Linked DNA regions of Homo sapiens. The protein of the gene in region 1 purifies or fractionates together with the protein of each later gene. This does not show direct contact. Each region holds a gene or a part of one and is shown in the gene's direction. Other genes may lie near its edges.

What was found. The genes of interacting proteins can lie anywhere in the genome.
Region 2: the proteins of CCT2 (region 1) and ACTL6A purify together in Homo sapiens (affinity purification with mass spectrometry; 4 studies listed by BioGRID and IntAct, with this or other methods). This does not show direct contact.

What each region holds. Positions count from the first base shown.
Region 1 is NC_000012.12:69,588,454-69,595,480, forward strand, and holds part of CCT2 (T-complex protein 1 subunit beta), read left to right. Parts: intron 1-1,031; coding exon 1,032-1,234; intron 1,235-3,605; coding exon 3,606-3,706; intron 3,707-4,522; coding exon 4,523-4,650; intron 4,651-5,056; coding exon 5,057-5,160; intron 5,161-7,027. UniProt on the Homo sapiens protein: Component of the chaperonin-containing T-complex (TRiC), a molecular chaperone complex that assists the folding of actin, tubulin and other proteins upon ATP hydrolysis.
Region 2 is NC_000003.12:179,579,899-179,586,925, forward strand, and holds part of ACTL6A (actin-like protein 6A), read left to right. Parts: intron 1-741; coding exon 742-803; intron 804-995; coding exon 996-1,110; intron 1,111-1,241; coding exon 1,242-1,322; intron 1,323-3,454; coding exon 3,455-3,550; intron 3,551-6,647; coding exon 6,648-6,734; intron 6,735-7,027.

The sequences.
Region 1 (7,027 bases):
GTATATATCATCAAAATATACAAATAAAGCAAATAGTATAATACTGTATAGAGAATTTGTTAGCCTCTTTTTAACCTAGTTAAATATTAAGCACATTTTTGGATGTCAATTTTCTGTGCAGTATTTTAATAGAGTTACACATTTGAATATTTGGCTAGAATGACTGTATTAACCTATCTGTAGGGGGAGATTTGTGTATTTGATGATTTTTAGCATTATAAAATAACTTTGTGACGTTGCGACATAGCCCAAAGGTTTCTAGAAGTGTAATTGTTGGGTCCAAAGGTAAGTGTGTGTGTTTTAAGGCACCCCCAAACCTGGGCTGCACAGCAGGTGAGCAGCAGGTGGAAAAATTGTCTTCCCATGAAACCAGTCCCTGGTGCCAAAAAGGTCCGGGACCACTGTTTTAAGGCACTTCTATTTATTTGCCCATTCACAACTGTATAATAATACTTGTTTTTCACGTCCTTTTATTTATTTATTTATTTTGAGACGGAGTCTCGCTCTTAGAGTTGCCCAGAATGGAGTGCAGTGGCACGACTTCGGCTGACTGCAACCTCTGCCTCCCGGGTTCAAGCGATTCTCTTGCCTCAGCCTCCCAAGTAGCAGGGACTACAGGCATGTGCCATCATAGCCAGCTAATTTTGTATTTTTAGTGTAGATGGGGTTTCACCATGTTGCTCAGGCTGGTCTTGAACTGACCTCAAGTGATCCATCCTCCTCAGTCTCCCAAAGTGCTAGGATTACAGGCGTGAGCCACTGTGCCCGGCCATTTCTCACATTCTTGCCAACATTAGACTTTTGCATGCTTGTGTGGCCCCCACCCCTCTTTTTTTTTTGGCATTTTGCCAGTTTGGTGGGGAAAATAACATCTTTAATTTGTGTTTCTTGATTACTGCTGAGGTTTAATTCTTTTCATATAGCTTACAGACTTGATCAGTTAGGGTAAAATTATCTATTGACATGAATATCTAGATAAATTTTGAAAAGTAAAGTAGGGTTAATATGTATATTTGGTTGGTTTTATTTAGTTCCGATGAAGTTAAATTCCGTCAAGATTTAATGAATATTGCGGGCACAACATTATCCTCAAAACTTCTTACTCATCACAAAGACCACTTTACAAAGTTAGCTGTAGAAGCAGTTCTCAGACTGAAAGGCTCTGGCAACCTGGAGGCAATTCATATTATCAAGAAGCTAGGAGGAAGTTTGGCAGATTCCTATTTAGATGAAGGTATGTATGAATGTCAGATACAAGAAGCTTTGATTAGATGCTGAGGGCTGAATACTGAGTGAATTCTGTTTTGAGACCAGTGACCCTTTACAAAGCCAGTGAACTTGAATTTAAGGACATATCATATGTGCAACCATTTTTGTCATTTTATTGACAGTGTACTCCTCTTCCCGCGCTATTCCAGCATTGTTGATGATCTCTAGAGTTTACTTAACTACCATGAAGTTATTTGCAGTCTCTGATAAAGAGGAAATGTTTTCTTTTACTAGAAATCATCTATTCTCAAATGGTACTTTTACCAGGATTATATGTATTCTCCAGGAAGGGTCTGGGTCAGTCAAATCATTGTGTTAGCTGGTTGTTGAGGATGTACAGTTGACCATTGAACAACATGGGTTTGAATTATGTAGGTTCACAATGCAGGTTTTTTCAATAAATATAGTCAGCCCTTTGTGTCCGTGGTTTGCACATGTGCAACCGAACGTGGATGGAAAATGCAGTATTTGCAGGATTTGAAACCCATGTATATAGTGGGCCAGCTTTTCAAATCTGCTGGTTCCAGTCAGCCTGGAACTTAAGTATGTGGGGATTTTGGTGTATGTGGGCGTCTTGGAACCAGTCCCCTTCGTATACTGGGGGATGACTAGTTTTTTTTAGAAAAGAATTAAAAAAAATTTCTTTAACAAATAATTATGTATGTTTATAGGGCAAGAGGATCTAGTTCTTAAAGAGTGATAAATGAGACATAATAAGTACTGCTTTCTTAGTAGTACATTTTTGTTTAGAGTGAAGTTTTCCAGATCATCTTCACATTATATTTACTTCACAAAATGGCCTGTCAAAAAGTATAGGCATTCTTATATAGAGAAGGAAAAAAAAAGAATTAGATGGTGCTTTACAACTTCTGTTTTTACCAGTGGTTTGGAGTCCTGGTTTTGTTCTGTGTCATAGGTCTTGATTTATTTTAAGAGAGAGTCATAATTCTGAAAATACTCTTGATTAAGTTTATATACAAGAGCTGTGTAGCATTTCTTTTTTTTTTTTTTTGAGACGGAGTCTGGCTGTGTCACCCAGGCTGGAGTGCAGCAGTATGATCTCGCCTCACTGCAACCACTGCCTCCTGAGTTAAGGCGATTCTCCTGCCTCAGCCTCCTGAGTAGGTGGGATTACAGGCGTGTGCCACCATGCCTGGCTAACTTTTTTGTATTTTTAGTAGAGACGGGGTATCGCCATGTTGACCAGGCTGGTCTCGAACTCCTGACCTAAGGGGATCCACCTGCCTCAGCCTCCCAAAGTACTGGGATTACAGGCGTGAGCCACCATGCCTGGCCGCTGCGTAGCATTTCTGATAGGGGCTGGTGGTAGGGAAGGAGCATTAAAACAAGAATATTAGTAGCACAAGCAGCACCATTCTTGAATGTCTGCTCTGTACTAGGAATTGTAATAGGAACTTTAGTCATTTAGTCATCATGACCTGGTGAGTGAGGATTAGGTTCACTTGAATAGAGTAGAAAACCCAAGATAATGGTGGCTTCATAATGGAAAAGTTTCTAATGTAACCAAAAAAAGGCCTAGAAAGGTAGGTGGTACTGGGTTTGTATGATGGTTCCAAAGCAGCAGGACTAGGCTGGTAACTAGCACCTCTGCTACTGGTTACATTCCTGTTTTACAAATTAGCATTTCTGGTTGGATAATTTGTCGAAGGTTATATAGCCAGCAGCAGGGGCATGATCAGGGTCAGATTTATCTGACTCCACGGTGTCCATGGTTTTTCCATTTTTACCACCAGCCTCAATACCTGAATCTTCAATTTTTCTCTTGTGGTGGTGATTTTAAGCTAATAAAAATATAGGACTTAACCTATTGTCTTTATATTGCAACCCATACAGATGTGGGTGTAGCGTATATCTGAAACAAAAGTTTCAAAATACTGTTTAATTTTATTGTCTGTACTGTGCTCTTATATTTTCTGTTTCATATTTTTTAAGTAACCCATTAAATTGATTTTGTAATAACTCTTCTAGTGGGATGCTTTATACCAGAAGTGTCCAAGGAAGAGAATACAGTCATGGGTTCCTAGTTTCTGTTTCTGGTTGGGTCGGTAAAGCCCCTTCCTCCTCCCTCTTTTCTGCTTATCACTAGAGACAGAAACTAAAATCCATGGCTTTCAGGCGCTAAAAGCCTAAAAGCAAAACAACAACAGAATAAGGCAGGTTGGACAAGCTTGCTTTTATGCCTTCTAAGAGCTTGGTAAATTGGACTTAAATAGCTTCTTTGAAACAGTGATATGATAAAGCAGACAGCTTTTTATAAGATTTACTAAGGCTGCTTTGAAGTATTAAATATGATACTGTTCTTATATTTATTGTAGGCTTCCTGTTGGATAAAAAAATTGGAGTAAATCAACCAAAACGAATTGAAAATGCTAAAATTCTTATTGCAAATACTGGTATGGATACAGACAAAATAAAGGTATGTAACTCTACTTTTTAAAAATTAAAATTACTGCCCAGGCAGAGTGGCTCATGCCTGTAATCCTAGCAATTTGGGAGGCCAAGGTGGTGGATCATCTGAGATCAGAAGTTTGAGACCAGCCTGACCAACATGGAGAAACCCTGTCTCTACTAAAAAAAAAAAAATACAAAATTAGCTGGGCATGGTGGCGCATGCCTGTAATCCCAGCTATTCGGGAGGCTGAGGCAGGAGAATCACTTGAACCCAGGAGGCGGAGGTTGCACTGAGCCGAGATTGTGCTACTGCACTCGAGCCTGGGCAACAAGAGTGAAACTCCGTCTCAAAAGTCTCAAAAAAAAAAAAATTGCTGGATTCTATAAACTCAGGAATCAATTGCACTAAAAAGCTTGGAATAGGTATGAATCTATTGTGTATATACACATATATATACGTTGGTAAAAATGTTGAAATATGCTATGGGACTCTTTAAAAAGAGTAATGAGGCCTGGCGTGGTGGTTCACGCCTGTAATCCCAGTACTTTGGGAGGCCAGGCGGGCGGATCACAAGGTCAGGAGTTCAAGGCCAGACTGACCAATGTGAGATGGTGAAACCCTGTCTTTACTAAAAATACAAAAATTAGCTGGGTGTGGTGGCGCACACCTGTAATCCCAGCTGCTTGGAAGGCTGAGGCAGGAGAATCACTTGAACCCAGCGGGTGGAGGTTGCAGTGAGCCGAGATTGCCCCACTGCACTCCAGCCTGGGCAACAGAGCGAGACTCAATCTCAAAAAAAATAATGAAACTGATGCTCTCTTTATGCTTCGTTTGTCTTAGATATTTGGTTCCCGGGTAAGAGTTGACTCTACAGCAAAGGTTGCAGAAATAGAACATGCGGAAAAGGAAAAAATGAAGGAGAAAGTTGAACGTATTCTTAAGCATGGAATAAATTGCTTTATTAACAGGTCTGTGTTTGCTTTTAAGAAAGGATTTTTTTCCATGAAAGTTTATGGAATACTTCATATTTACTTATATTGAATTAGATTTTTTACCTAGGAACTGTCTTAGATAACTTCACTTAAATTATGGATTTTTGTAATCAGTAAATTGTGATTTATGCACACTTACAGTGACCAGAATTACGGGATTGATTTATACAGTTACTATAATAAAGAACACTTCTTTTCAATACTAGTAATGGATGCATTAGTACTATAGTTGATAAACTCTAATTATATAGGTAAGAAATGCAATCTTGTTCTAATTTGCATTTCTTTTACTTGTGGTAAAAATGTTTACATGTTTTTTAGTCTAATGTAGTTTATCTTGTAACAGTTGTGAGCATAATGTTTTCATGTATTTTATTTACAGGCAATTAATTTATAATTATCCTGAACAGCTCTTTGGTGCTGCTGGTGTCATGGCTATTGAGCATGCAGATTTTGCAGGTGTGGAACGCCTAGCTCTTGTCACAGGTATGGAAAAAAGGTATTGTTTTCTAACAAACACAATAGTCACTCTTGAATTTGTTATTTGTTACTATATGCAACTACCTTTAAGGAGTTTAGAATTTCAGCAGTTATTCTGAAATCTATTCTCTTGGATACCTTTAATTTAGATACATAGATACATTACATTTACGATACCAAGTTATATACCACATTTGCCGTAGGTATAGATTTCTTTCATTGTGTCACTGTTTTAAAGGTAGATTTTTGGCCAGGTGCAGTGGCTTGTGCCTGTAATCCCAGCACTTTGGGAGGCCGAGGCAGCCAGATCGCTTGAGCTCAGGAGTTTCAGACCAACTTTGGCAACATTGCGAACCCACATCCCTACAAAAAAAAAAAATTGGCCAGGTGTGGTGGCAAGCGCCTGTGATCCTAGCCACTTGGGGGGAGGCTGAGGGAAGAGAATCGCTTGAGCCTGGGAGGCAGAGGTTGCAGTCAGCGGAGATCGTGCCACTGCGCTCCAGCCTTGGCGACACAGTGAGACCCTGTCTCAAAAAAAAAAAAAGATATGTATATTTTTTTCTCACAAACCTGTAAGACCGTTGTTAAAATCTGAACAAACTAGAGCTTTAAAAAGTCTTAAGTCTACTTACATTTATCTAGTTCGTACATTTGTTTTTATTGCTTAGTAAGTAGTTGAATGCTTTGTGTCCTTTGTAGTAGTACAGTTACAATAGTAACCTTTATTGAACATTTACTGTGTGCTGGAGAGTGGGTCAAGTACTGAAACATTGCTTTTGTTAATTTTAAAAAATTTCTGAAAGTAATAAACGTTAGCATACGTGAAACAATCAACATTGTATAATGAAAATTAGTATACCTCAATACCCTTTAATAGAAGTATGAGTGATATAATTCCAGTTGTGTCAAATAGAAATTGTGTTTATAAATCAGACATGTCTGTCTACATCACAATGACATGAGTTCAGGCTGGTTGCGGTGGCTCATGCTTGTAATCCCAGTGCTTTGAGAGGCCAAGGCAGGAAGATTGCTTGAAGCCAGGAGTTCAAGACCAGCCTGGGCAATATAGTAAGACTGTCTCTACAAAAAATTAGCTGGGCGTGGTGGCACATGCCTGTAGTCCTAGCTACTTGGGAGGTTGAGGCAGGAGATCTCTTCAGCCCAGGAGTCCAAGGCTACAGTGAGCTGTGATCACGTCACTGCAGTCCATCCTAAGTGACAGAGCAAGACCCTGTCTTTAAAAAAAAAAAAAAAAATGCAGCTTGTTTGCTTTTTATTGTGGTAATGGTTTAAAAATTATTGTTTATTAAATTTTTACAGATTTAGGGATATAAGTATAGTTTTGTTAATGGTTTTCATAGTACACTCTAAGCCCTGGAAAATAAGTTTAACACTTTTCTAGATTTTAGGTCCTTGAAAATGAATGAATAGGTTGGAAAGTTGGTTTGGGAATGAGAATTAAGGAGACCTGGGTTATGAGTTGTGAAGTCAGTAGGGCTGTCACACTGTTTGGAACTGCCATGAATATTAGAAGAAATTATAGTGTACTAACCTTTGGAGAGTGGACTTGGTCTCATCCCAGAATGATCTCTTAAGACGTTTTTTTTAATCATTTGAGAAGCATAGTCGTCTTCTAACCAAGAGACATTTTCCTTTAATTACTTGAAGTGGGTTTACTTGCTTTAAAGTTACTTAGGAGCCATTGCGTACTTGATGCTTTAAGGTGACAAATAAACACAATTTAAGATGCTCATGTTTATGTAATTCATTCTTTAGTTCCACAAAATAAAGATGTAAGAGGCCGGGTGTGGTGGCTCACGCCTTTAATCCCAGCACTTTAGGAAGGCCTAAGTGGGCAGATCACAAGGTCTGG
Region 2 (7,027 bases), on another chromosome or scaffold:
TCAGTAGGGAGGACTACAGGTGCATGCCACCATGCCTGGCTAATTTTTTATTTTTATAGAGACAGTGTCTCGCTATGTTGCCCAGGCTGGTCTTGAACTCCTGGCCTCAAGCGATCCTCCTGTCTCGGCCTCTTAAAGTGCTGAGATTACAGGTATGAGCCACTGCATCCAGCTCTGACAGTTTTTGCACCTAAAGATAAAGATTTTGTCTGTGTGCACATGTAATATACGAGGAAAAATTAGGATGATTAGTCATTTTTCCTAGATATTAGACAAGATTTTTCTAGAGGTCGTGTTAGTTCACAACATTTTATTAAACTGTTTTATACTATGTACAGTCATTAAAAGTTGCATAAAATGTGATGTACATGCACATGTGTATATGTAGGTAATGAAATCTTGCTTCTAATCTAGCTTATTTTTAAGGAGAAAGTGGTGTTCTGAAATTGGTTTTGTTATGCAGAACTGTGGTGCAGGGGTTCCTGCACCTGCAGTTATTTATCTCTCATTTCATAACTGTTGTAACTTAAATGTGTGTAATTAACTTCTAATGCAAATGATTAGAATTAGGTTTCTTGATACTCAGAATCCTTGTTAGGTACATTTATACTCTTGAAATGATTTACCCATCTAGAAACATGGTCCAATTTCATTCAGAAAAGTATTTAAAATATGTTATAAAAGTATAGATTACAAAGATAAATCTCAACCTTGTTTGTTACTTTTTTCTTTTACTCACAGTGTGTTATCCAGGATTTTCAAGCTTCGGTACTTCAAGTGTCAGATTCAACTTATGATGAACAGTATGTTTTCTTATTAAAATGTATACTTTATAAATGAGGAAAGGATTTGTTTAAAAAATACTTAATTGAATAATGTTTAAAATATTCTCACTCCCTTTTTTTTTTTTACAAGTTTATAATTCCCTAGTAGTTTATAATTTTGAAGAGAATTATTTTTTGTCTTTTGTGTAATACGGTTTAATATGTTTTCAGAGTGGCTGCACAGATGCCAACTGTTCATTATGAATTCCCCAATGGCTACAATTGTGATTTTGGTGCAGAGCGGCTAAAGATTCCAGAAGGATTATTTGACCCTTCCAATGTAAAGGTATAAAAGCTTATTTCATAATTAGCCTGGCTTTTCCTATATAGGTAAAGAGCTTTTGTGGCTAAAATGTTTTGGATATGCTTTACTGTATGAAGAGCTTCCATGTGACTACTTGTTTTCTTTTGTTGTAGGGGTTATCAGGAAACACAATGTTAGGAGTCAGTCATGTTGTCACCACAAGTGTTGGGATGTGTGATATTGACATCAGACCAGTAAGTGCCAGTCTCCTGTTACGGTTTAAAGGTATCTTTTAGGGGACTGAAATGTCCCCAAATCATTGTTAGGTTGACAGTGATCTAATGGTTGTCAGTGTCATTGACTTTGAGGTTCATTTTATAACAGTATATGTAAAAAGATGAAGTACTAGAAAAGGAAAAATGTGAAACTCTAGAGCTATGGTGTCCAGTTTTGTAGCTACCCGCCACATGTGGCAATTTAAATTTAAAATAGATAAAAACATAAAACTCAATTCTTCAGTTGTAGTAGCCTCATTATAAATGTGGCTAGTGGCTGCATCAGACAGCGCAGATATAGAACATTTGCATCATCACAGAAAGTTATTGTAGACTGCGCTAGAGATTTCCTGAAATGTGGCAAACCAAAATATGTATTGTTGGTGATTTTCTTACAGATAGCACAACTTCTACTTTTATTTTTCAGGAAGGCGTGGTTTAAATTATATGAGTAACTTTTACATGAAGTTTATTTTAAATGCTCTTCATATTTTTTGTGCTTTGTCAGGTTTTAAATACTAACTCCATATTATATACTTCACTCATTATCAGTGATAGGTTCTTGGAGACTGCAACTTTAACTGAAACGATGTACAGTAGGTCCTTGAAGGACATTGTTTCAGGAAAAAAATTGGTTTTGTTACATGACATTTTGCTGAAAGTCAGTTTCCAAGGTCATATTGATGACATTAAATGAGGACTTACTTTATCTTATTTAAACCCAATTCAGCTTATCACCCACATACTGCCTAGATTTTGAGTAAATTAATTTGCTTAAAGCATAGTGCTAATAACTACTATGTTATTCAAAAAAGGCTTTGAGTGGCTATGAAAATCATACTTTATTTTACCTTTATTTCACCTGGTAACCTAGTAGGCATGTGATGTTTCTAGGACAATAGTAGTATAAGTTTGGGATTTTTTTAGCGCAAATACAATTCCACCTTTCGGGGAAGGTAATTGAATTGAAGTATATTTATTGCAACAGTGATAACTGTTTTTAGTGAAGTTTCTCCTTTTAACTAATGAGATACTTTTGCATTCCATTTTCTACTTCAAAATTTAGATGATTTAGACATTTGAAGTATGTTTTAAAAATAGGAACTTACCCACTAAAACAGTTTGACATTTAACTTTCTGATGCATACATGCAAATTCAAAGTAAATACACTGCTTATAAGTAGTAATTTATTTTTATTTGGGAAGGGCTTAGCATATGTGTTTTGGAAAAGCTCCCATGTGCTTCTGATGCTTACCTCTGCAAAAGAGAAAAGTAGCAATAATTTTGGCGAGGAATATGTTCAGAGTTTATCATTGTCTGTCATAATCATAAAATAATTGTCTAATTTTGAATATCCTAACTTACAGATAAGCATTCTTTTTCAAAATATTTGTAATTTTAATTTTTGGCTGGTGGTTGCAATTAATATTTCCAGATGAGCATTCTTTGAATATCCTAACTTACAGATAAGCATTCTTTTTCAAAATATTTGTAATTTTAATTTTTGGCTGGTGGTTGCTATTAATATTTCCAGATGAGCATTCTAAGATAAAGTCATTATAAAATGTACTTCTAATTAAATATTGGCAGCTATCTGCCAAAAAAAAATTATGATTTTTAGAATGATTCCTTTAAGTTAGTGGTTCTTAAAACTTTGTACACATTAAAATAATCTTGGGAGTTAAAAACCATGCCTGCCAGGTACAGTGGCATGTAGTCCCAGCTACTTGGGAGCCTGAGGCAGGATTGTTTGAACCCAGGAGTTTGAGGCTGTGGTACGCTATGCCTGTGCCCGTGAATAGCCACTGCATTCCAATGTAGGCAATATAACGAGACCCCGTCTCTAAAAGTAACCTTGCCTGGATCCCATCCCCAGACATTTTTATTTAATTGCCCCTAGGAATTTGTGTTTTAAAAGCTCCTTAGATGAGTTGAATGTACAGCCAGGATGGAGAATTGATGGATTAAGCTATTAGTTCTATATAATAGTAAAACATTTCCAAAAAACGAAAGGGAAATTGTAGTAGAGCACATGGTTATATTTGTAGTTGTATTTAAAACTTTTGGAAACATATGGAACTAATTGATTTTTCTTGTATTTTTATCCTAGGGTCTCTATGGCAGTGTAATAGTGGCAGGAGGAAACACACTAATACAGAGTTTTACTGACAGGTTGAATAGAGAGCTGTCTCAGAAAACTCCTCCAGTAAGTTCTGTTTGTTCTTTAATGGTATTCTTCAGTCATATATTTCCTCACTGATGGTGTAATTTTGTAGATAAGCGTCCATTTTTCAATAGATACATGATATTTTGTGTGTGCCTGGTATAGTATCACTAAAGTTAATATCCTTTAATCGTTTTCCTAGTTGACATCTATTAGTTTCTCTTAAATTATTTGAATCTCATTTATTAATATTTAAATATGTATAGTCTGCTAGGCACTAGTCCCTGCACACCAAGGGCTCAGTCTACTAGGATGGTTAGACATGCAGAAAATGATGACTGTAACATGCTCAACAATTCAGTATGTCATGAACGAGGTGCTGTTGGGAACACCAAGAAGCCACTACTTAACTCTCTAGGAGTATCAGAGGATAGCCTCCTGAAGAAGCTATAGTTTGAATGAATAGTTCAACTCATTGCTAATTTATGAAAGGATATCTAGATGGAGGGAATAAAACCATTTACAAAAATACTAAGAGAAGACAGGTATGTTCCAGTAATTCAAAGTAGTTGGCTTCTAGTCTTTACGTAAGTGGGGAAAGCAATATGGCTAGAAAGATGGATTAGTTTCCTAGAGCTGCCGTAACAAAGTACATGTTAGTGGCTTCAAACAACAGAAATTTGTTGTCTTATAGTTCTTGAGGCTAGAAGCCTCAAGGTGTCAGTGGAGCTATGCTGAATCTCTAGGGGAAAATACCTCCTTCTTCACAGGATAAAATCTAGCAGTGGACTGATGAGCTCATGTTTGTTTTAAAAAGATCAGTGGGTATATTATAATAACTTTTAAAAGAATAGAAAAACTCGGTTTGAGAAGGTAATTTATATAGTACTTCGGTAACAGAATGACAGTTATAATCTTTTAACTTTAAAATTTCTATCAGCTGGGCGTGGTGGCTCACGCCTATAATCCCAGCACTTTGGGAGGCCGAGGCAGATGGATTATGAGGTCAGGGAGACCAGCCTGGCCAACATGGTGAAACCCCATCTCTACTAAGAATACAAAAATTAGCTGGGCCTGGTGGCGGGAGCCTCTTAATTCCAGCTACTCGGGAGGCTGAGGCAGGAGAATTGCTTGAACCCGGGAGGTGGAGGTTGCAGTGAACTGAGATCACACCACTGCATTCCAACAGAGCAAGACTCCATCTCAAAAAAAAAAAAAAATAACAAAAATTAGCCGGACACGGTGGCACGTGCCTGTAATCCCAGCTACTTGGGAGGCTGAGACAGCAGAATCGCTTGAACCCAGGAGGCGGAGGTTGCAGTAAGCCGAGATCATGCCACTGCATTCCAGTCTGGGTGACAAAGCAAGACTCTGGCTCAGGAAAAAAAAACAACAACAACAAAACTTCAAGTGCTTTTTTTGTAAGGTGTTCTGCACTGAAGATTACATTTAAAAAACCTTATTAGTGGTTACATATGCCCTAACAATATCTATAAATCTGTATATTTAATAGTCTTTTAGCTTCCCATATAAAATAATGTTTTACGTGTGCCACATTTCTATTATTAAAAGTGATATCTAAATATATAGGCACACAGTTGACATCTGCCTTGTATTTTCTAAATTCTTGGAGATCTAGAGCATACCTGAATTATAATACTAATCATTAGATTGATTGATTGATTGGAGATTTATTTATTTATTTATTTACTTGAGATGGAGTCTTGCTCTTGTCCCCTAGGCTGGAGTGCAGTGGCACGATATCAGCTCACTGTAACCTCCGCCTCCTGGGTTCAAGTGATTCTCCTACCTCAGCTTCCCAAGTAGCTGGGATTACAGGCATGTTCCACCACACCCGGCTAATTTTTTATTTTTAGTAGAGATGCAGTTTCTCCGTGCTGGTCAGGCTGATCTCAAACTCCCGACCTCAGGTGATCCACCCGCCTCGGCCTCCCAAAGTGCTGGGATTATAGGCGTGAGCCACTGCACCGGTCTATAATACTAATGATTAGATTTCATAGAAAGTCCCTGAATAATGAATACAGATAAGCATGGCCCAAGCTGTGGTCAAGGCCAGTTAGAAACTATCCTTGTCCTTTAGGAGGTGATAACAATCTCTGAAAGAACAGGAAAAAAATTCTATTTAATAGTTACCAATCTTTCTTACCTACAAAAACCCATGTTTACCCTATCCCCAGTACCTTCTACCCACCCATATCCCATACTCTACCCACCCTTGCTGCACACATACTTATTTCACTTTGAAAAGCCCCAAAAATATGTTCATTTATAGAATAATAGGAAGATGTCAACAACTTGAGAACTGTCCCCAGAGGCAGATTCCTTGGTAAGAGAAAGAAAAAAACCTCTTCATATAGGAAGTGAGATATAGGGGATAGTACTGTGCAATAAAATTGTGTTATCAAGAGAAAATGAGAGTCAGAACAGAAGCACTAATTTGGAAGGAAATAGTATGAATAAAAAACTAACCTGATATCTGATGGTTGTGTTTTTATTTAGAAGGGTTGGGGTGAACTAAGGAGGGATTAGGATAGCATGAAAGCCTAGAAAGGAAGCAGTTAGAAGGTTGGGGAGGACTACAGAAAGGGAGACAGATTGGGATGATAATTAGGTTGGTGTTGGATGAAATGAAATAATAAAGACTTAGCACAGCACCAGATTTATAGTGTTAGGTGTGGATTTGCTATTTTAGGATAGAAATTGTGAATGCTATACTTCAGTATGCAGCTTTTTAAAGTTTGTATGTTTTCTCATCATATAATCGCATGTTAAAAGCCATAATCAAAGTACTTTTAAAAGTCTGTACATTAGTCTAACCTATGCTTGTTATCTTGGCTATTTCAAAATTACCGTATTTTAATCAGTGTTTGAACCACAGGGAGCCATTATGAAGTCTGTCAAAATTGAATTTCCTGGCTGGGTGCAAGTGGCTCATGCATGTAATCCCAGCACTTTGGGAGGCTGAGATGGGCCGATTGCTTGAGTGCAAATGTGAAGACCAGCCTGGACAATATGGCGAGGAAGACCCTGTCTCTATTTGAAAAAAAAAAAAAAAAAAAGAATTTTCTAAGTTGAGTCACAAGATTTGATTGTACTAATGCATATTCTTCTATTTCAGAGTATGCGGTTGAAATTGATTGCAAATAATACAACAGTGGAACGGAGGTTTAGCTCATGGATTGGCGGCTCCATTCTAGCCTCTTTGGTTAGTAGATGAGCTACTTTGCAAAAATATTCTTACTGAATTATACTAAATTTAGTAAAAATACAAAAAATAATTCCAGTGCTTCATTTGTCTGTGCATTTTATAACTGTCAAATGAGTGGAAGACCTAATGGAATAACCAGTTTTATGTGTTCTGATGTAACAAAATGCCTCTGCCTAATTAGTGGACATTTGTCAGCCTAATTTCAATGTCCCCTCTCAAACAGAGGTGGAAATATGTTAATGTATGCATGCCTTTTCTAATAATACCCCCATTGGCACTGGTCAGGGCTT